Homo sapiens: one gene and its partners. The protein of the gene in region 3 interacts with the protein of the main gene of each other region in a pairwise test. Each region holds a gene or a part of one and is shown on either strand. Other genes may lie near its edges.

The links. Proteins that work in one complex are often made in the same cells at the same time.
Region 1: the proteins of ABI2 (region 3) and WASF3 interact in binary tests that used the Homo sapiens proteins (3 or more experiments, as listed by UniProt).
Region 2: the proteins of ABI2 (region 3) and KNSTRN interact in binary tests that used the Homo sapiens proteins (3 or more experiments, as listed by UniProt).
Region 4: the proteins of ABI2 (region 3) and SCGN interact in binary tests that used the Homo sapiens proteins (3 or more experiments, as listed by UniProt).

What each region holds. Positions count from the first base shown.
Region 1 is NC_000013.11:26,682,466-26,687,507, reverse strand, and holds part of WASF3 (actin-binding protein WASF3), read right to left. Parts: intron 4,902-5,042; coding exon 4,534-4,901; intron 3,993-4,533; exon of another isoform or gene 3,925-3,992; intron 1,821-3,924; coding exon 1,663-1,820; 3' UTR 1-1,662. UniProt on the Homo sapiens protein: Downstream effector molecules involved in the transmission of signals from tyrosine kinase receptors and small GTPases to the actin cytoskeleton. Plays a role in the regulation of cell morphology and cytoskeletal organization.
Region 2 is NC_000015.10:40,388,504-40,393,545, forward strand, and holds part of KNSTRN (small kinetochore-associated protein), read left to right. Parts: intron 1-1,002; coding exon 1,003-1,108; intron 1,109-1,332; coding exon 1,333-1,426; intron 1,427-2,989; coding exon 2,990-3,051; intron 3,052-3,445; coding exon 3,446-3,520; intron 3,521-4,689; coding exon of another isoform or gene 4,690-4,728; exon of another isoform or gene 4,729-4,965; coding exon 4,966-5,042. UniProt on the Homo sapiens protein: Essential component of the mitotic spindle required for faithful chromosome segregation and progression into anaphase.
Region 3 is NC_000002.12:203,393,061-203,398,852, forward strand, and holds part of ABI2 (abl interactor 2), read left to right. Parts: intron 1-1,639; coding exon 1,640-1,786; intron 1,787-2,595; coding exon 2,596-2,720; intron 2,721-3,724; coding exon 3,725-3,907; intron 3,908-5,792. UniProt on the Homo sapiens protein: Regulator of actin cytoskeleton dynamics underlying cell motility and adhesion. Functions as a component of the WAVE complex, which activates actin nucleating machinery Arp2/3 to drive lamellipodia formation.
Region 4 is NC_000006.12:25,699,032-25,703,108, reverse strand, and holds the end of SCGN (secretagogin), read right to left. Parts: intron 1,903-4,077; coding exon 1,774-1,902; 3' UTR 1,326-1,773; downstream 1-1,325.

The sequences.
Region 1 (5,042 bases), on a different chromosome or scaffold from region 3:
TGACTGCACCCAATGGACAGGCTCTGTACAATCACTGCCCACAAGCCCAACAGGTAGCCACTCGAGACACACACACTGAGGGGACTTCGGGGCTGGCTGACTTGCTCAGATGCATTTTAACAAAAACCCCCATCACCATCCTGCTCACATTCCTACCGTCACCTCAAACATCTCTGCTTTTAGCTCCAGATTCTTCTCAACATAACTGAGTAACTAACCACAATGGATATGAAATACTGTTGAGTAGGTTAAAGTCCTTAATAAGTCAAGCGTCTTAGCATATTTTTGAAGTCGTATCTATAATCAAAGCCTGGAGCACCTGTTTGTTCAACACAGTTATCTTTCATCCAGAATTACAAAATATAGAAGCTGTCATTCTTGAGTTTCCCCATGGGTCCCTGGTATTGCCCACGTGGGAACAACAGGAAGGGTGGAGGTGAGGGCACAGCACTGTACTACAGCTGCAGGGCTGATCAAGGGAATCTCATGAGGTGCTTTTTATCATTTAATGTGCCAACAACAGGAGGACAACCATGTGCTTCTAGAACAGGGTGAAGGCCCTCCTCACGGGAGTGATCCCTAATCTGGCCCCAGCACCGTGAAAGGTGAATAGCTGTCAATATCTACTTTCACCTAAACCTAAGCTTTTAAAATTCTGACCAAGTGGTGAAAGGTGCCATCTAAAGTGCTCTCTGTTGCTCGCTGAGGAGCTAAGAACTCCTGCGGCTCACTCAGGACACAGGTGTCAGGAAACTAAAGGAGCAGGGCTCCTTTGCAGCCCAGGCCCTGTGCCGCAGCTCTGCCCAGCTCAGCGGTGTAGCTCCCAGAGTCATGGACTGCTCGCATCTGTTCTGGCCGGCTGGTGCCCACACTGGAGAGACTGGCAAGTATCTTGAGTGTCATCCCCAATGGCCCCAGGAAGGAAAATGGACTCTGTTCTTCACTTTCATTACTGTTGAGCTGCTGAATTCTCTTGCAAAAACCATCAACAGGCATTTACTAAGCAAATGCCCACAGGGAACCCAGCCTGAAAAGGGCCCTTCCAATTTCATATTTGACAGGCATGTGCAGAGGTAATGAAATTATTCAGCAGAGCATCAGATTCACTCAGAGGCTACCAAGCCAAGAAACTGAAAGCAGAAACACTGGATTCTCCCTGTTTGTTGAACCTTTCCCTCTAAAACCAACTTATTCAGAAACACATCCTTTAAAAAAACAAAAGGAAAAACCAAAGCGGTGAAACAATATCACTTACTGGTTGGAAGACATCACTCTGACATAGTCATTAGTCTTGCAGAGACCTAACACCAGGCAGCTTCACAAACACACAGCAAGTCTGCAGAGTTATATTGATCAGTAAGAGTAAACCCAAACTGCACTAAATACTCTCATGGCCAAGAGGAAAGCAGATGCTGTTTTCAGGACAATGTGATAGTGACAGCCTATTTCCTCATGTGCAGCACAATTTGCTATGTTTAGTGGCACTTAAGTATTACACAGTAAATACTGAAAAGACCCAGAATTTTTGGATGTGCAGAAGCAATATCACATTGTTTATACAAAAGGTGCTATGCTACGGGATTAGAATACCACTATTTGGGTGTAGAGACCACTTAAAATCTTCAACACGCTCCCACACGCGGCCTCTCCGCCGGCCTTTGCTCAGTCGGACCAGTCGTTCTCGTCGAACTCTGAGTCGTCGTCAGAGTCGCTGTACTCCACGGCAATGCGCCGGGACAGGATCGTGGCCACGTCATTCCCCACTGGCTCCCGCTTGGCCTCCTGCTCCCGCTGCTCCTGCACCTTTTTCAGTTGAATTCCTGCAGACACAACACGTGGTTCAGAATCACATCCTTTTGCTGGCTCCAAATTAAAGATAAACGAACAAATATGTCTATTGGACTTTTTTTTCTACTGACACTAAGGACAGAAAGTTTTAGAAATTTGAGGGGAGAAAAGCTCAGGGAATATTAAAAGTTTCATGAGAAAAAACATGCATTCAAAGTGAGAAGTTTTTTTGTAACAAAGTAATGTGTTAAAATATTAAAAATTCCTAATTTCAGTGTACCTGAACACCATTAGAGAAAACTGTGGAGCTGCACCATCCCAGACAGCAGCCACTAGGCACATATAGCCTTAAAAGCATGAACTGACATGTGGCTAGTGGCTACTCTCTGGGACGCTGCAGGCTGGAGCATTTCTATCACCACAGGACATCTACTAGGCAGCAACAGCATCCAGAGCCTTGGAAACAGTGTTCTATGCTACTCACTCTCAGCTAACCCAAGAAGTAACTGAGAAACCTTTATTTCAACAATTACTGTGGAAACAAACATAAAATACAATCATCTACTTTCTAGCTTAGTAACAAAGTAAGATATTTGATGATTTAATGTTTATCCATTTTTTTTTTTTTTTTTGAGATTGGGTCTCACTCTGTGACCCAGGCTGGAGTGCAGTGTTACGATCATGGCTCACTGCAGCCTCGACCTCCTGGGCTCAAGCAATCCTCCCACCTCAGCCTCCTGAGTAGCTGGAACCACCGGCGCACGCCACCATGCACGGTTAAATTTTGTATTTTCTTTTTTGTAGAGATAGAGTCTTGCAATGTTGCCCAAGATGGTATCCATTCATTTTTTAACTGTTTTGAAATAATTTCAGATTTACAGAACAGCTATGAGACCAGCAGAAAAACATTCCCATATACTTGGATTCCCCAACTGCTAACATCTGACCACATTTATTTCCCAATCTTCCCCTATCATCTTTACACAGACAGACACAGACACTTTTCTCTGGACCATTTGAGAGTGAATGGCATATAATGTCCCTTTACCCCTAAAATAGTTCATGTGTTACCGCCCCCGCCTCGCCCACCCAAAATATCAAAATCACAAAATTAGTTTGGATACACTACTACTATCTATCCTACAAATATTATTCAAATTTTGCAAAAAGACCCAATCTAATTGCAAATGGAAAAGATTATCCCCTGGTTCAGAATCCAGTGGAAATTATCCGTGACATTGGTTGTCAATTTTGTTAATGTCCTTTAATCTGGATAGTTCTTCACAGTCTTTGTGTTTTACAACCTTCTCGTTTTTGAAGAATATAGGAAGCTATTTTGCAGAATGTCTGTCGATTTGGGTGTATCAGATGTTTCCTCGAGATTAGATACAGATTATGTATCTACTCTTGGTAGACAGGGCTTATAAGGTGTTAAAAAAAAAAAAGGCAAATCCAACACCGTCCTACAATGACCCCGAACTTGATATTCATGAGCTAATATACCTCTAGGACTTTTTTATCTTGACAAAATAAAAGTGTGTCAATGATGTCCAGGTACACAGAGGACCCTGGGGTCTTTAGAAGGGTGCGTGGGCCACACTGTGGGCCTGGTTCATGGGCACACAAGAAAAACGCAGAGGCAGCAGCATCACAGCTCCTCTGAAGGACATCCCTGATGCTGAGCTGGCGGGCTGCAGCCAGGCTCCTTGCTTGGTCACTTCCAGATGAGATGACTAAACTGTGACCAAGTCTGTGCAGCTCCCCACAGGCGAGAAGCTCTTGGATATTCCCATAACATGTCAGGGACCCTCGACCAACCTGGGTTGGGACCTGGTTAAGAATCCATGGTGTGGGCTGGAGGTTCCCAGGGGCTCTCTGGGCAGCCCAAGACAGGCGAGGGCAGACTCCCCACCCAATTCCACCTGAGATGCTCTGTTTCCATGTGTTTTGTGGTCAGGGGGTCAACGCGGGACTTTCATCTGACAAAAGGGTTATGCTGTTGAATATTATAGATTCTGAAAAACCACTGGCTTAGGACATCAAGCAAATATGACAAGTCCAGCACAAACTCTTTTTTTTTTTTAAAGAAATCATTAATATGAGCTCACTTTCTTTCATTTATACTTTTCCCCTTAGAGCAGAATGCAGAGAAGAGATCCAATTAATTAATCGATCACTTCAGTTATTGGGTTTCTGGTTTCAAGGTAAGTAAAAACTTCCTAATTTCAATTCTTTTTTTTTTTTTGAGACGGGTCTCGCTCTGTCGCCTAGGCTGGAGTGCAGGGGCGTGACCACGGCTCACTGCAGCCTTGACCTCCCACACTCAAGCAATCCTCCCACCTCAGCCTCCTGAGTAGCTGGGACTACAGGCTCAGGCCAACATGCTCAGCTAATTTTTTTTTGCATTTTTTGTAGGGATAGAGTTTTGCCATGTTGCCCAGGCTGCTCTCAAACTCCTGGGCTCAAGCAATCCAACTGCCTTGGCCTCCCAAAGTGCTGGGATTACAGGCATGAGCCCACCGCGCCCGGCTGTTTCCCAATCTTTATCACAATTTGATTACCTTACACTGGACAAAAACACAACTACTATTCAAAACAAAACAAAAAAATCAAGTAAGACCCCTTTAACTCTATTTTAAAAAACGTAGTGAGTAGTCATTTGAAGACAAGGAGGCTGTAGCTGGCTGGAGACATGAAGAAACCTCTTGCTGAAAGGCAGGCTGTGTGTCTGGGGGCTCCACTTACCCATTCGAATAGCAGCGAGGAGGTCGCTTCGAGCATCACTGATTGGTGGCTGTGCAGGCTCTTGCCGCTTCGCCTCAGCTACTGGGGGGCCATGCATTGGGGAGGACGAAAGAGAAGACCCGGGACCAGGAGGGCCTGGCGGGGGAGGTGGTGGGCCCGGGGGTGGCGGGGCTGTGACCAGGAGCCCGGTGGAGGGTGGGTGAGGAGGAGCTGCGTGCGTGGAGCTGGCTGATGCAGGGAACGGGGGCTGCATGGGCATCTGGAGAGGGCTGACGAAGGCAGTTTGTGCTGAGGGAATCACAGGAGGAGGTGGCGGAGGAGGTGGTCCGGATGGGTTGTAATACTCAATTATCTGCGCTGGGAGCATCCTGAGAGAGATATGAGGCACATAGTCACCAAGGGAACAAGAGAGGGTCACGTCCTGGGAGCTCTTAGACACCTAACGGAGCCATCCCCAGACACAACACGTATTGTCACCTGAACTTCAATCATGGCAGGATGCAAACATG
Region 2 (5,042 bases), on a different chromosome or scaffold from region 3:
TTAACTATGGTGTTTCACCGTCTCTACTAAAAATACAAAAAATTAGCCAGGCATGGTGGCGGGTGCCTGTAGTCCCAGCTACTCGGGAGGCTGGGGCAGGAGAATGGTGTGAACCCAGGAGGTGGAGCTTGCAGTGAGCCGAGACCACGCCACTGCACTCCAGCCTGGGCGACGGAGCGAGACTCCATCTCAAAAAAAAAAAAAAATGCCTTTAAGTGGTTTTCCGCCCTTGGCAGGCCAGGTGTTCCTAGCCCTCATTCCCGTAAACCCACAACCTTCCAGCATGGGCATTAGGGCCTTTATGAACATGTTACAGTGCTGCAGAGATTTTGTTTATGGCCAGTTTTGGGGCCAGTTTATGGCCAGATTTGGGGGGCCTGCTCCCAACAATTGGTGATATTAGAGTTTATTAGATGATAAACTAACATTAGATAATAGCCCAGCTACTGGGCTAAGAAATGCACACGTGTTTTCTCTCTTATTACTCATAATAATAATACTATGAGATGTGGGTATTGTCCTGATTTCAAAAATGAGGAAACAAGGCCTCAGGGAGGTTATGCAACTCACTGAAGGTCATATACCACTGTGTAATAGCCAGGATAGAATGGGACGTGTTTGTGTAACTCTGTAGGCCGTATTTTTCTTTCTTTTTTTTTTAGACGGAGTTTTGCTCTTGTTGCCACCCAGGCTGGAGTGCAATGGCGCAATCTCAGCTCACCACAACCTCCGCCTCCTGGGTTCAAGCGATTATCCTGCCTCAGCCTCCCAAATACCTGGGATTACAGGCATGCGCCACCACGCCTGACTAATCTTTTGTAATTTTAGTAGAGACAGGGTTTCTCTTATCTTGGTCAGGCTGGTCTTGATTTCCCGACCTCAGGTGATCTGCCTGCCTCAGCCTCCCAAAGTGCTGGGATTACAGGCATGAGCTACCGCACCTGGTGTGGGCCATACTGTTAACCCTTTTATCTTTTCATGTAAGTACAACTATTATTACAGCTACAAACCACTGAGTAAGCAAAAATCAGAGGAAGAGCTCAAGGACAAGAACCAGCTGTTAGAAGCCGTCAACAAGCAGTTGCACCAGAAGTTGACTGAAACTCAGGTAAGAGACCCACCAGAGCTCTGTTACCAGCTGCCACTGGGCGATCCACATGGAATCCTGATGGGTGGCCCCTTGGATGAGCAAGCTTGTTAATGCACAGATGCCCAAGGGCAGAAAAAAAAAGCCAGGCTTTTGCTATGGCTGTCCAAGAGCAAGGGCAAGAAAGGGCAACCACCCCTAGGGAGTTGGACAATTCCTGATCTGTCTGTGCTGTGCTCCAATAGGGAGAGCTGAAGGACCTGACCCAGAAGGTAGAGCTGCTGGAGAAGTTTCGGGACAACTGTTTGGCAATTTTGGAGAGCAAGGGCCTTGATCCAGGTAAGAGACAGCACACAGCTAGCCTCCTTTGAAGGAATTGGTGCATGTGCCCCTTCCGGGGTTGATCTTGGCAGCATGGCATCAGCTGGCCCAGTATGTGCAGGGGTTACTTTCATAAAGCCCTAAAGATTTTGGAAAGCTTCTGTTTGTTTTCATGTGATGTTGATTTTTGCCTGGCCAATAGGATTTCAGATGATTATAGAGAGAGGGTTATCTCTTTCTTACCTGAACACTTTATGCCATTCATTTAGTGCCAACAGGTATGACCTTGCAAATAGATGAGAAACACTTTGTTCCTTTCAAGGGAGAACATTTTCTGTCTCTTCCTATTTGGGAAAGTTACTAGTGTGCTTGAAAGGAACATTTTGTTTGAACATGCTCTTCCTTTCAAGCATACTAGTAATCCCAAATGGGAAGAGAAAGAAAATACTATTTCAAGCATTCTTAAACCTGGTTAATCATCAGAATTACAGTGACTAAAATATGACTACTATTCTGACCCTGTCCCCCAGAAAGCAGTATCTGTAGCAAAGAGAGCAGAAGAAGGAATTGCCCAAAGACTGTAAGAGGGCCTCAGACTGAGTCAAAGAGCCAGAGAATGCCCAGGAAAGGGGCCCAGGCCTTTTTGTATTAAGGAATACTGACTTTGAATGTTACTGGTTAATCTTTAGGTTACAGTTGAGGATATTCTTTTTTTTTTTTTGAGATGAAGTCTCATTCCATTGCCCAAGCTGAAGTGCAGAGGTGTGATTTCGGCTCACTGAAACCTCCTCCTCCTGGGTTCAAGTGATTCTCCTGCCTCAGCCTCCTGAGTAGCTGGGATTACAGGCGTGTACCACCACACCCAGCTAATTTTTGTATTTTTAGTAGAGATGGGGTTTTGCCATGTTGGTCAGGCTGGTCTCAAACTCCTGACCTCAAGTGATCTGCCTGTCTCGGCCTCCCAGAGTGCTGGGTTTACAGACATGAGTTACCATGCCCAGCCTAGGATATTCTTTATAGTCACCATAAATATATATGTTTTTAAATTTAAAATTGTTTATTTTTTTGAGATGGGATCTCGCTATGTTGCCCAGGCTGGCCTCCAACTCCTGGGCTCAAGCAATCCTCCCAAATAGCTGGGACTACAGGTGTGCACCACCACATCCGACACCATAAATATTTTGTATGATTTTAGTTTATTACATGCATGTGATATTACCGAAAGTAATAATTTTTTAAGGCCTGAAAGGCTCTTAAAAATAGCTTTGTGAATTGTGAACAAAACCAAAAAAAATCCAACCTATACATTTCCTTTGGACAAATTGTCCACTGACCTAAGGAGAAAGTATACCGAATTTTTGGCCATATCAAAACCTAGATTGAAAGGAGATAAAATACAGTTTTGCAGGGCAGATATGGGTGACCCTGCCAAGGTGAAAACTTAGGAGAAAGTCCAGGATGAGACACTTAAGAGAAATTCCCCTCATGAATATTTCTGTACTTGTCCACGGAGGGTTTTTATTTTCTTTTGTTTAGGGTGTGTAGTTCCCTAAGTGAGATTGACTTTGTTGTATCCATCAGCTTTAGGCAGTGAGACCCTGGCATCACGACAAGAATCCACTACTGATCACATGGACTCTATGGTGAGGGCATGGGTGTGAAAGGGCGCAAGGGCTGAGTGACTGTGGGGCTCTGTAAATCTAAGAAGGTCTCTGCTATATATTCCATAAACTCCAAGAAACAGCCTTTGATTATCTGTGATGCTAGAAAAGAGAAATGGGATGTGTACTCAAAATAGCATATTTTACTTGAAAGGTAGCTTTGTGCTTACAAATATAAGTGAGTCTGAATTGAAAATTTAAAACACATAATAGGTAAACCTGTAGAGAGAGCTTTCTCGTTCTTCTGTTCTATACTTTATCAAATTTCTCTCCTGACTCCTTTGTTGAGAACTGTGTGGAAAGGATGTTAGCCATCATCTAATGCAAGTCTGGTTTTATATGAAGATTTGTTTACTACATTGTGCTTTCCTCTTAGTTGCTGTTAGAAACTTTGCAAGAGGAGCTGAAGCTTTTTAACGAAACAGCCAAAAAGCAGATGGAGGAGTTACAGGTGAGAGGCAGACATCACCCTGACCATTTCCTACCATGATAGGTAGATTTATAGTGGGGTCTTTTCTGTTTTTCTATTTATTTTTAATAAACTTTCTAAATAATTTTAGATTTATAGGAAAGTTACAAAGATAATACAGAAAATTTACCCTGATAGTAACGTGTTTTTTTTTTTCCAACTTTTAAGTTCAGGGGTACACGTACAGGGTGTGTAGGCTTGTTACACAGGTAAACGTGTGCCATGGTGGTTAGCTGCACAGATCATCCCATCACCTAGGTATTGAGCCCAGCATCCATTAGCTATTCTTCTTGATGCACTTCCTCCTCCACCCCCAATAGTAACATCTTACATTATCCTGGTACATTTGTCAAAACTAAGAAATCAGCCAGGCATGGTGGCTCACGCCTATAATCCCAGCACTTTGGGAGGCTGAGGTGGAAGGATTACTTGAAGCCAGGAGTTTGAGACCAGCCTGGGAAACATAACAAGACCCCATCTCTACAAAATAAAATTTAGAAAATAGCCAGGCGTGGTGGTACATACCTGTAGTCCCAGCTGCTCAGGAGGCTGAGGCAAGAAGACCACTTGGGCCCAGGAGGGCAAGGAGATAAAGTCTCACTGTTGTCCCCCAGGCTGGAGTGCAATGGCGTGATCTCGGCTCACTGCAACCTCCGCCTCCCGGGTTCAAGCGATTTTCTTGCCTCAGTCTCCCAAGTAGCTGGGATTACAGGCATTTGCGACCATGACCGGCTAATTTTTATATTTTTAGTAGAGACAGGGTTTCACTGTGTTGGCCAGGCTGGTTTCGAACTCCTGACCTCAGGTGATCTGCCCGCCTAGGCTTCCCAAAGTGCTGAGATTGCAGGTGTGAGCCACTGCACCCGGCAGGAAAAAAATTTTTTAAAAAACAGACCAACATCAGTACATTACTATTAACTATATTCCAAGTCTTCATTTGGATTTTAGCAGTTTTTTCCACTAATTTTTTTTTTTCTGTTACCGAGGCTTCTTGCAAATGTTCACATCACCAAGGCATGAGGCAATGTGTAACACAGTAGGTTGCTCAGAGTTGGGAATTGAGAACTATATGTAATCCATTCTATGGAAACTTGATAACTCAAGGAGAAGACCTGTAGTAAGCACAGATTCTTTGGTCTGGACTGTTTCAGATTGCTTGGATGAATCATGGGATATTGCACCAAATGTAGAGGATTTCATCGTTCCAGTTTAGATACAGGAGTCTAGTCCCTCTCTACTACTAGAGGGACAATTCCTAAAACCAGTGCATAGAAATAAAATCTAAAATAGAAGATACAGTCTGTTGATACTCCAGTGGTCTTCCTTAGTGGAATAGGAGCATAATGTTCTGATGTGGGAATTGTGTTTCCTGTTAGTCAAGAGTTTTGTGTATGTGTTGTTTTCTTTTGGAATGTCTTTCCATGCAGGCCTTAAAGGTAAAGCTGGAGATGAAAGAGGAAAGAGTCCGATTCCTAGAACAGCAAACCTTATGTAACAATCAAGT
Region 3 (5,792 bases):
TTTTTTTGAGACAGAGTCTCACTGGAGTGCGGTTGTACAATATTGGCTCACTGCAACCTCTGCCTTCTGTGCCCAGGCAATTCTCTTGCCTCCAGGCGATTCTCCTGCTTCAGCCTCCTGAGTAGCTGGGATTACAGGTGTGCGCCACCATTCCCAGCTAATTTTTGTATTTTTAGTAGAGATGGGGTTTTGCCATGTTGGCCAGGCTGGTCTCAAACTCCTGAGCTCAAGTGCTCTGCCTGCCCCGGCCTCCCGAAGTGCTGGGATTACAGGCATGAGCCACTGCACCCGGCTGCAACAAAACATTTTTATTGCCTGGGAAAAATTGTCTGAAAATTAGATGTTGGAGAAATTAATGTTTCCCATTTTATTGTTTAATATTTGCATTATAATTTAAGAGATGCTGGAACTTCCTTTTAGTATTTTAAATCCAAAGTCCTGACATTACTTTTTCCTCTTTTGACCCAAGATTTCATCCAGTGTCCCTTATTTTATTTTTAATTACCAATGTATGTATTTATGTAAGGAGACTTTGAAGGGTAGTAGAGTAAATTGCAAAGTGATCTCATGCAAAATCAGTGATCCATAACTTGAGTGCCCCAGGAAAGCAATAGTTAAAGGAACTCTGGGATCCATACATAAGTCAGTAGAGCAACATCATTTCAGGAAAAGAAAGGTTTTTAATTTTCACATCTTGATCAGTTCTTATTCTTTTAGTGACCAAGATCTCATCTACAATATGTCAATTGACTGTTTATCATTGTCATAAAGAATTTGGAAACCTAAGTAGAAATGAGAACTAATTTAATAAACACTAATTTCCCCATGTGCATCCTGTTCCCTGTCATATTTCCTTTCTTCCTCTTTTCATCCTCTTTACGAGGAAATTTTGGGAAAAGGCGGGAAATATGTGTTAATAAAATCCAGTCTGGTTTGTATTTTACAGTTCAAAGTAAATAATATAGAAAGGCTGTTGTGGTGGTCATTCCCTTCCCCCCACCTTTGTAAATGTTGAACTCTGAGGAAGGAAAGAGAAAAGAGATCAAGGTGAAAGTTGAGGGAGAAAGTGAGAACGGAAGATGAGATTAAAGTGTGTATTTTTGTATATAGATATACTTTAATTTCTGTATATTTGGTATATAGAAAGGGAAATGAGTTGTTATGGCTAGTATTGATCATCAGTGTGGGGGTTATAGATCCTAAATCTAGATTTGTAGTTCCTGTCTTTGAATATCTTTGGTTAGGGAGAGAAGGGAGAGGAGAATAATTAGTGCATTCATGAAGTACAGTTGGGAGACTTTAATATGATACTAAAAGAATTCCAACTCTTCTAAGAAGAGGTAGGGTCTGGGAAACATTGGCTTAAATGGTAGAGAACCTTTGTGCTCTTTGAGAATAAATGAACAAAATTGCATTAGCACAGGGAAATGAGGTTGGAGACTGAAAAATAACAATATTCACCAAAACCCTAATGGTGGAGAAGTGATACATTAGTAAAGACTGAAATTGGTAGCTGGGTTATGTTAAAACACATTTCCTATCTCTGATTACAAATTGTATCTCAACTGCTGGCAACTCTTTGAATTTATTGTGCCGAAACTTGCTTAATCATACAATACATACGCTCTTCTTTTTGTAGGCGGCACTCCCCCTATCGCACACTGGAGCCAGTGCGTCCTCCAGTGGTACCAAATGATTACGTACCTAGCCCAACCCGTAATATGGCTCCCTCGCAGCAGAGCCCTGTGAGGACAGCTTCTGTGAATCAAAGAAATCGAACTTACAGGTATTTTCTCTACCTCAGTGCAAAATGTGATGGTCATAGTACCATAATCTGTTCAGATTACTTCAGGTAAATCTCTCATTTTCCAAGCACTAAGTTCTTTTCCTCACTCTATTCTCCCAAACCTCATCTGATTTCACCTCTCTCTCCTCATGTTCTGATTCAACTTTGAGCAGTCAGGAAGTTGATAAAGAACAGACATCTCAAAGTGCAGACTTCTCTCCAAGTTTTAAGAGTTCAGTTGATCTGGAAAAAAAATTATGGACCAAATGTGGGAAATGTCAGGTTGTTTTTTGGTGGAACTTTACAGATGAAAAACTATACATAATAAAACATTAATATGGGATAGTACATCAGAGTATGATTATTAATTAAAATTACTCAAATCTGTTTAGGAAAATGTTTTTGTTTTATTATAAAAGAAGTTTCTTCAGATAGGCATTAAACTGGAATATAAAAAGGCAATATTTATTGTTTTAATGTGTTAAACCTCAACATTTATCACTTGTATTTATGGATAATTTTTTCAAAATGTGGTCAAAACAAGCTTATTGAACTCAGTTTTCCCCTCAACTTTATTAATAAGTAAATATATATATATATATACACACACACACACACACACACACACACACACACACATTTTTTTTTAACCTGTCACTGACTTGGAGCTCAAGGAAATTTTATTTTGAAGTGGTACGCTTTTGAATTACCTTTATTGTAGCTACATTCATCTCAGAAAATGTCGGGAAGTGCTGATGATCTCTTACTGTTTATAAATACTCATGTTTTGGTGGCTCTTATTTCTTTAGCAGCAGTGGGAGTAGTGGAGGGAGCCACCCAAGTAGTCGGAGCAGCAGTCGAGAGAACAGTGGAAGTGGTAGTGTGGGGGTTCCTATTGCTGTTCCTACTCCATCTCCTCCCAGTGTCTTTCCAGGTAAAACATTCATGGTGCCTCGTCTTCACTTTTCCTTTCTGAATTTGATTCAATTTGTGATTTAATTATGGTGGGCTTTCTTCGTAATCAGGATTTTTTTTCTTTAGGAATCATAAATATTGGGAAGTCTATATATTTGTTATTTGTAAGCAAGTGATTTGTAAGTGTTTGCTCACTTTGCACTTCTCTTTATGCCTTTGGTGATGTGGCTCAGTTGCTGCTTTGAGGTTTCAGATCACACTTTGTTATGAGTACAAGTTTAATTCCAGCTAGTGTTATGACAGTGCAGTCTTTGGACACAGTGGGAACTCAGTGTGAGAACCATATTAGTAACAAAGGATTGGGCAGATATAAAAAGTAGTTTTGACAGTTAAATTTAGTGGCTGTATTGGAATTTAGTAGTCTCTGAAAATACTACCCTCTTTTCTCTGAAACAGAAAAATCTGCTTATTTGATTCGAGGAGATACACACTTAAAACTTAGTTTTGAAAACGTGACACAAAATACATTAATAGAATGTTACATACTTAATTTACTTATAGTAACAAGTAGATAATGCCTTTTAAAAATCATAAAGATTTGTGTTTTAAAAAAAATTTTTAATCTGATAATATGGAATATGTCTATTTTCTGATTTGTGTAATTCAAAATGGAAAACTGTTGTTTTTTAGTGTATTATGTTAGTTTTGTATACTATATACAGAATGTTATGCTAAAAATAACAATACGAAGGGAACACTTTTCTTCTGGAGTAGTGCTTTCAATTGAAAAGGAATGTTTGTTTTTAATGAATTGAAAAAATCTGCACATTACCCTGAGCATCTTGAATTATTTGCTGCTTATATAGTAATCCTTTAGCATAAGTTTTATTCTTTTTTTCAACTCTGTTCTTTTGGTTAGTGTTAAGCACTGAATATCTAACATTAAATACTCTAATACCTTTTCTAATCCTGCCTCATGTGATTGCCTCATTAATGCTGCCTCTTACTCCTCTTTCCCCTCAGCCCCTGCTGGCTCTGCTGGCACTCCTCCCCTTCCTGCTACTTCTGCATCTGCCCCTGCTCCTCTTGTTCCTGCTACTGTCCCTTCCTCCACTGCCCCAGACGCTGCTGCTGGGGGTGCCCAGACCCTTGCTGATGGCTTCACTTCTCCAACTCCCCCTGTTGTTTCTTCCACTCCCCCTACAGGTAAGTATTTGCTTATTCATTGGCAGGCAGATGCAGTCATCTGGCTATTCTCTTACTTGCACCTCTGATTTTTGTTTGTTTTTGGTTTTGTTGTACTTCGTATTAAAAAAAAATAAGAATAATGTACTAACCAGAAAGTATGTGACCAAAGATTAGCATTTCCTGAGAAAATTGAGGTAAAGTTTCTCATACATTTTTCCAATAGGGTAGCATAAATTTGTGTTTTTTTATTGCTTGAATTTCATTTATTAGAGATTTTTAAGTTTAATATGGAGCTACCTTCTATACAGTTTTTGGAAATTATCATTAGAAATATTTTCATTATAGGTTAAGTGATTAACAAAAGTCTATTACAATAATTCTAAGGTATATTTTATAGGAAATATTTGATACAACAAATGGAAAGCCTCTGTAAGTCTATTTTTAACAGAATCTGTTGCTTATTATAGCAGCATTGGAAACTCATAGACAATGGACTTTTAAAGAATTTCAGGTTTATTTAAGTTGGCTGGTGTTTTAAAATTGCAATCTAAAATCTGTTTTGATTGGGGAGGAGATAGACTCAATTGCTACGAAATATATTTGTAGAGTTAATGATGCTGGCTAGTAACAGGTTCTTGTCTGCTATAAAATGTATGTGTTTGGACATATATCACTGTATTAGTCTGTTCTCACATTGCTATAAATACCTGAGACTGGGTAATTTATGCAGAAAAGAGGTTTAATTGGCTAACGGTTCTTCAGGCTGTACAGGAAGCATGATAGTGGCATCTGCTTGGCTTCTGGGGAGGCCTCAGGAAACTTACACTCATGGCCTAAGGCAGAGGGGAAGCACACTGGTCACGTGGCCAGAGTAGGAGCAAGAGGACAAGGCGGGAGGTGCTACACACTTTTAAACAACCAGATCTCATTATTGCAAGAACAGCTCCAAGGGGGATGGTGTTAAACCATGAGAAACCGCCCTTGTGATCCAGTCACCTCCCCCTAGGCCCCACCTCCAACATTGGGGATTACAATTCAACATGAGATTTGGGCAGGGACACAGATTCAAAGCATATCAATCACCGTAGTGTTCCACTTGCCAGTGAAGAACTTCATGGCATTTATATTCAGCTTTGCTGTTATACATGTTAAACATATATAAGATCTTTACATGTTTTAAAAGACACTTTTAGCCAAAATGGATTTTGGGTGATGTCTTGTGGGATTCCTTCTATATGACTTTTAAAGAAAAGCTTTCTGCAGTAGATAAATGTAAACATGGGGTGTTTTTTGATCCAGATACAACTGTTAGGCCAAACTAACTAGTTAAATATAGGAATCTCGTTATGCTCCTGCTTTGATAAAGAATGCATCAGAAAGGACAAATCACCCCCAACTGAGAGTCTATGTTTTAGTAATTAAATATTAATTGAATAACAGGTGCCTGGCTCAGTGTTCACTAAATAAACATTTGTTATGTGAGGGGATAATTAACTGTGGTTTTTAAAACAAAAAGCAAGGTAAATGTCTTATTAATAATTTATATCAGGATAGTCTGTTTTATACAGTACCTGAGTTACCAAGCAATTGTTTTTCTTTTTACCAAGGTATAACTTATGTACAGTAAAATTCACCCTTTATACCATATATGTTTGTGAGTTTTGGCAAAGGTGTACTGACATGTAATTGCCACCACAATCAAGTTACAGAACAGTCCTATCATCGCAAAAATTTCCTCCATGCCCCCTTTATAGTCAGTCCTTCCCTTCCACTCCCAGCTCCTGGTAAGCCCTTGATGTGTTTTTTTTCTCTAAAGTTGTGCCTTTTTAAGTATAACATAAATGAAAGCATATAGTATGTAGCTTTTTTGATCTGTTTTTTTTGGCCAGATGCATTTGAGAAT
Region 4 (4,077 bases), on a different chromosome or scaffold from region 3:
CTTGGAGAATTGTTCTTCTGGGAGGTGTGGCGGATCCCACTGTGAGAAAGAACCTGCAGGAAGGGGCCAAGGCTTCCTGAAAGGTACGTGAAAATTGTCTGTAATTAAGTGGTTGTTGGCCGGGCATGGTGGTTCATGCCTGTCATCCCAGCACTTTCAGAAGCTGAGGCGAGTGGATCACTTGAGCCCAGGAGTTTGAGACCAGCCTGGGCAACATGGCGAAAGCCCATCTCAAAAAAAAAAAAAAAAAAAAAATTAAAAAATAAAGTGGTGGTTAGGAGCACGTGGTTCCAGCGTCAGACTCCCTGACTTCCCACTTCTAAGAGCTATGATAACGAACATATTGTTTAGCTTCTATCTACCTTGGTTTCTTCATCTCTAAGATGAGTATCATGATAGTACCTATCTCACAGGGATTTGGTGAAGATTAAATTACTTAAGGTATGGAAAGCACCTAGAAGTACTTGGCACATAGAAAGCACTTAGTAAATAGCAGTTCTTAATATGAATTATCTATATGTTGGAGGTAAGGGTGACATGAAGGGAAGAAAATCAGGTTAGGACGACGGTGTGCAATGAAGGGAACCCCTGTAAACAGAATTCGTGGGTTATGAACAGCTCTAAATACACTGTTCTACACTAATTTTTCTGAATTATCTGTAACACTTCACTAAGCCTGAAATTACTACACAGTCTAGTATAAGGTAGGGGTGTTATGAAGAATAAAGGATGAAGACAGTAAAGGAAAGTGGGGCCTACCCTGCAGAAACTCTCCCCTTGCCCCAACAGTCTCCTTTCCATGGGGATGGCATCAGAGTTCCAGGAGAGAAGAGAGCAGGGCACATGTTGGGGCCAGGAGCATGCAGAGGCACCCATGAGAGGCACTCACGTACCTAGAAGAAGGCTGTCGTGGTCCCAGATTTGCTGGGGAGCACTGTTGGAAAAGGAAGGGATGGAGAGGGGAGCCCGGGTTACTTGGGAAACATTTTCTTCATACTTCTTCTCTATATCTACCTGCCTAGCCATGTGAGCTCACCAAGCACTTAAGAACAAACCCCAGTCCAGGATGAGTGTTCTGGTCTCCTCCTTCCAATAAAAAGTGATTATTGGCAGCTCTCACTTTAATGCCAGCTCACCAGGAAGTCAGCCCTAGTGAGGGCATGTGAGGACTATAGAAGGATTGGTGGTGTGGATTTCTTTTAAGATATTGCCCTTCACTCTCCTTCTCCACCATTCCCCCGATCCCCATTAGATAAGGGGTTTGTTAGTCAAACCATCAGGTAGAACATTTCAAAGGTCACAAGACAAAAGCAATTACCAGTACATTTTTGTTTCCAATTGCAGATTTATTTCCACACACACAAAAAAATCTATGTTGAAGTTACAGGATTGCCATGAATGCCACACACCTTTCAGACTAAGCAGAAAGCCCACAAGAAAAGCACAAAATGAATGCACTCAGCTGCCCCTGTCCCCCCCACCCTGGTGACTGGGGAAGGACAGGCAGAGCCATCTAACAGGGGAGCTGAGTCTTTGGGAGGATAGGAAAGCCCAGGGTCAAGGGAAAACAACACAGACACTACACAGGGGCTTTCAGTGAGACAGGGATAGATCACGCCGGTGGAAGGAAGGCCCTAGCGTCCCTGTTCTTGCCCAAGAATAGCACACCATTTGTGAGTTTGCCCACTGTGTTCCCAACATCAATGCACAGATACAATTCTACCAGCAAGATCACAGAAACATAGTAAGAGCAAAAGGCAAAGCAGTCTGGGATTATGGGTTGATTTTCAGCCCAAGACACAAAGCCAGCTCAGACTTCTGAATTTTTCCATCCTTGTTCACGTCGCAGTGACGCAGGAGAATCTCGCGGAACTTATCAAGGTCCACCCCGCTGATGCTGGGCTGAGGGCGACAAAAGTAACATGTTAACAGGCAAGCCAATGGTGTTCTCACCCTTTAACACCCTCTCTGATGCTCCCTAAGCTTAGGGTGTCCTGCCTTGAAGGAGACAGGCCACAGGGAGTGAGGGAATGAGTCTATCGCCTCATCCCACCAAATGCTGCCAAGGATAAGTTTTCTGCCAACAGCTTCATTTCTCAGCATGTCCCTTCAGGCCAAAAAACCTTTACTTCCACATCACTTCCCTGCAGTTCTTAGAAAAAGACTGCCTTATTAGCAACCATAGTAAAGATACTTTGCCGCAAAGTAGGCAATTATGATCATAAATTTCTGCCTTGCTGCACTGATGAGAGAAGACACATTTCATTATCTCCTTGTAGGAGATTTTTGTGCCTCTGGTTTAAAAAAAAATGGTTATACTGAATGTAAATTTAAAACATGTGGTTGAGCTAGGGATGTAATATTTACTCCAAGGGATATGTTAGGGGGCAAGAAAGAATGTTAGCTAGAAACGTGACACATGTTAGCTAGGAAAAGTTTTTTACTTCAAGCTCAAAGGCCTGCAAAAGTGAGGAATGCTTTAACAAATTGATTCTCCATAGGTTATTTCATGTAAGCTTCACAATAATGCTGGGAAGTAAATAATTCCACCTCTTTTACAAATTAGGAAACAGAGGTGCAGAGAAAGCTTAAGCTTCCTGCCAAGCTGGAAAGTTGTGGCAGCATTTTTGAGCCCAAGAATAGTCCAACAGTCCTCTGACAATTGGAGACAGTCCTCAATAGTCCTCTGATTCCAATTGAGTGCTCATTGCAAAATTTCATACCATTCTCATGGAGAAAAGGCTGGTCTAATGAAACTACATGTGTGCTGATGCATCTGTGAATAAACGTCAAAATCAAAGAGCCCATCCTTCAAAATGGATCTCACGTGGTTTACTGGCCCAAAATTTTTTTTTTTTTTTTTTTTTGAGACGAAGTCGCAGCCGTCCCTGCTGGAGTGCAGTGGCAGTGATCTCGGCTCACTGCAACTACCGTCTCCCGGGTTCAAGCGATTCTCCCATCTCAGCTTCCCGAGTGGCTGGGCTTACAGTCACCCGCCATCATGCCCGGCTAATTTTTGTATTTTAGTAGAGATAGGGTTTCATCCTGTTGGCCAGGCTGGTCTTAAACTCCTGACCCCTGGTGATCCGCCCACCTTGGCCTCCCAAAGTGCTAGGATTACAGGAGTGAGCCACCGTGCCCGGCCACTGGCCCTAAATTTAAAATAGATCCAAGTGGCCCTTTTTTGACTAGAGATGACAGCTTACTCAAGTACCCTGAAAACCAGCACCTTTTTCTTTTTAGGGCTTTCAGAGCTCACCCGAACCAACCAATCAGAACTCAGTTAAATTAACCAATCAGGACTCAGCTCTATTGACCAATCAGAACTTGGCTCCAATAACCAATCAGAACTAAGCAAGTTTGAATCCTTTATTTGCACAAACAGAACTAACTGGCAACATGGGTGGGCACTGACTTTGTAAAATCCAAACCCCCTTTTGTTCTCTGCACCCTGGTTTACACTGAAAAGTGTGTCCTCCATTTTCCCATTTTCTTTTCTTTTTTTTTTTTTTTTTTTTTGAGACAGAGTTTCAGTCTTGTCACCAAGCTGGAGTGCAGTGGTGCCATCTCAGCTCATTGCAACCTCCGCCTCCCAGGTTCAAGCAACTCTCCAGCCTCACCCTCCCAAGTAGCTGGGATTACAGGTGCCCACCACCACACCCGGCTAATTTTGTATTTTTTCAGTAGAGACAGGGTTTCACCATGTTGGCCAGGCTGATCTCAAACTCCTGACCTGAGATGACACACCTGCCTCGGCCTCCCAAAGTGCTGGGATTAGAGTCCTGAGCCATTGTGCCCAGTCCCGTTTTCAAACTATTAACGGGAATAAAGCCTTTCCACCAAATTCCTTTTCAGAAAACTTCTGTTCACAAATCTAAATTTAAAAGTCAATGTACAGAGAGAAAAACAAAAAACAAATTTAGTCAAATTTCCAAGCCCCTTGATTACTGGAGTAGTTTTATGAGTGAATAGAGAAGGCAGCGACCCGCAGGTTTGATTTCAGGGGCTCTGGGAAGCACTCTCCATTACCCAACCCTGCCCCAAGGTTTTCTTGCTTCCAAAAACAAAATCACTAAA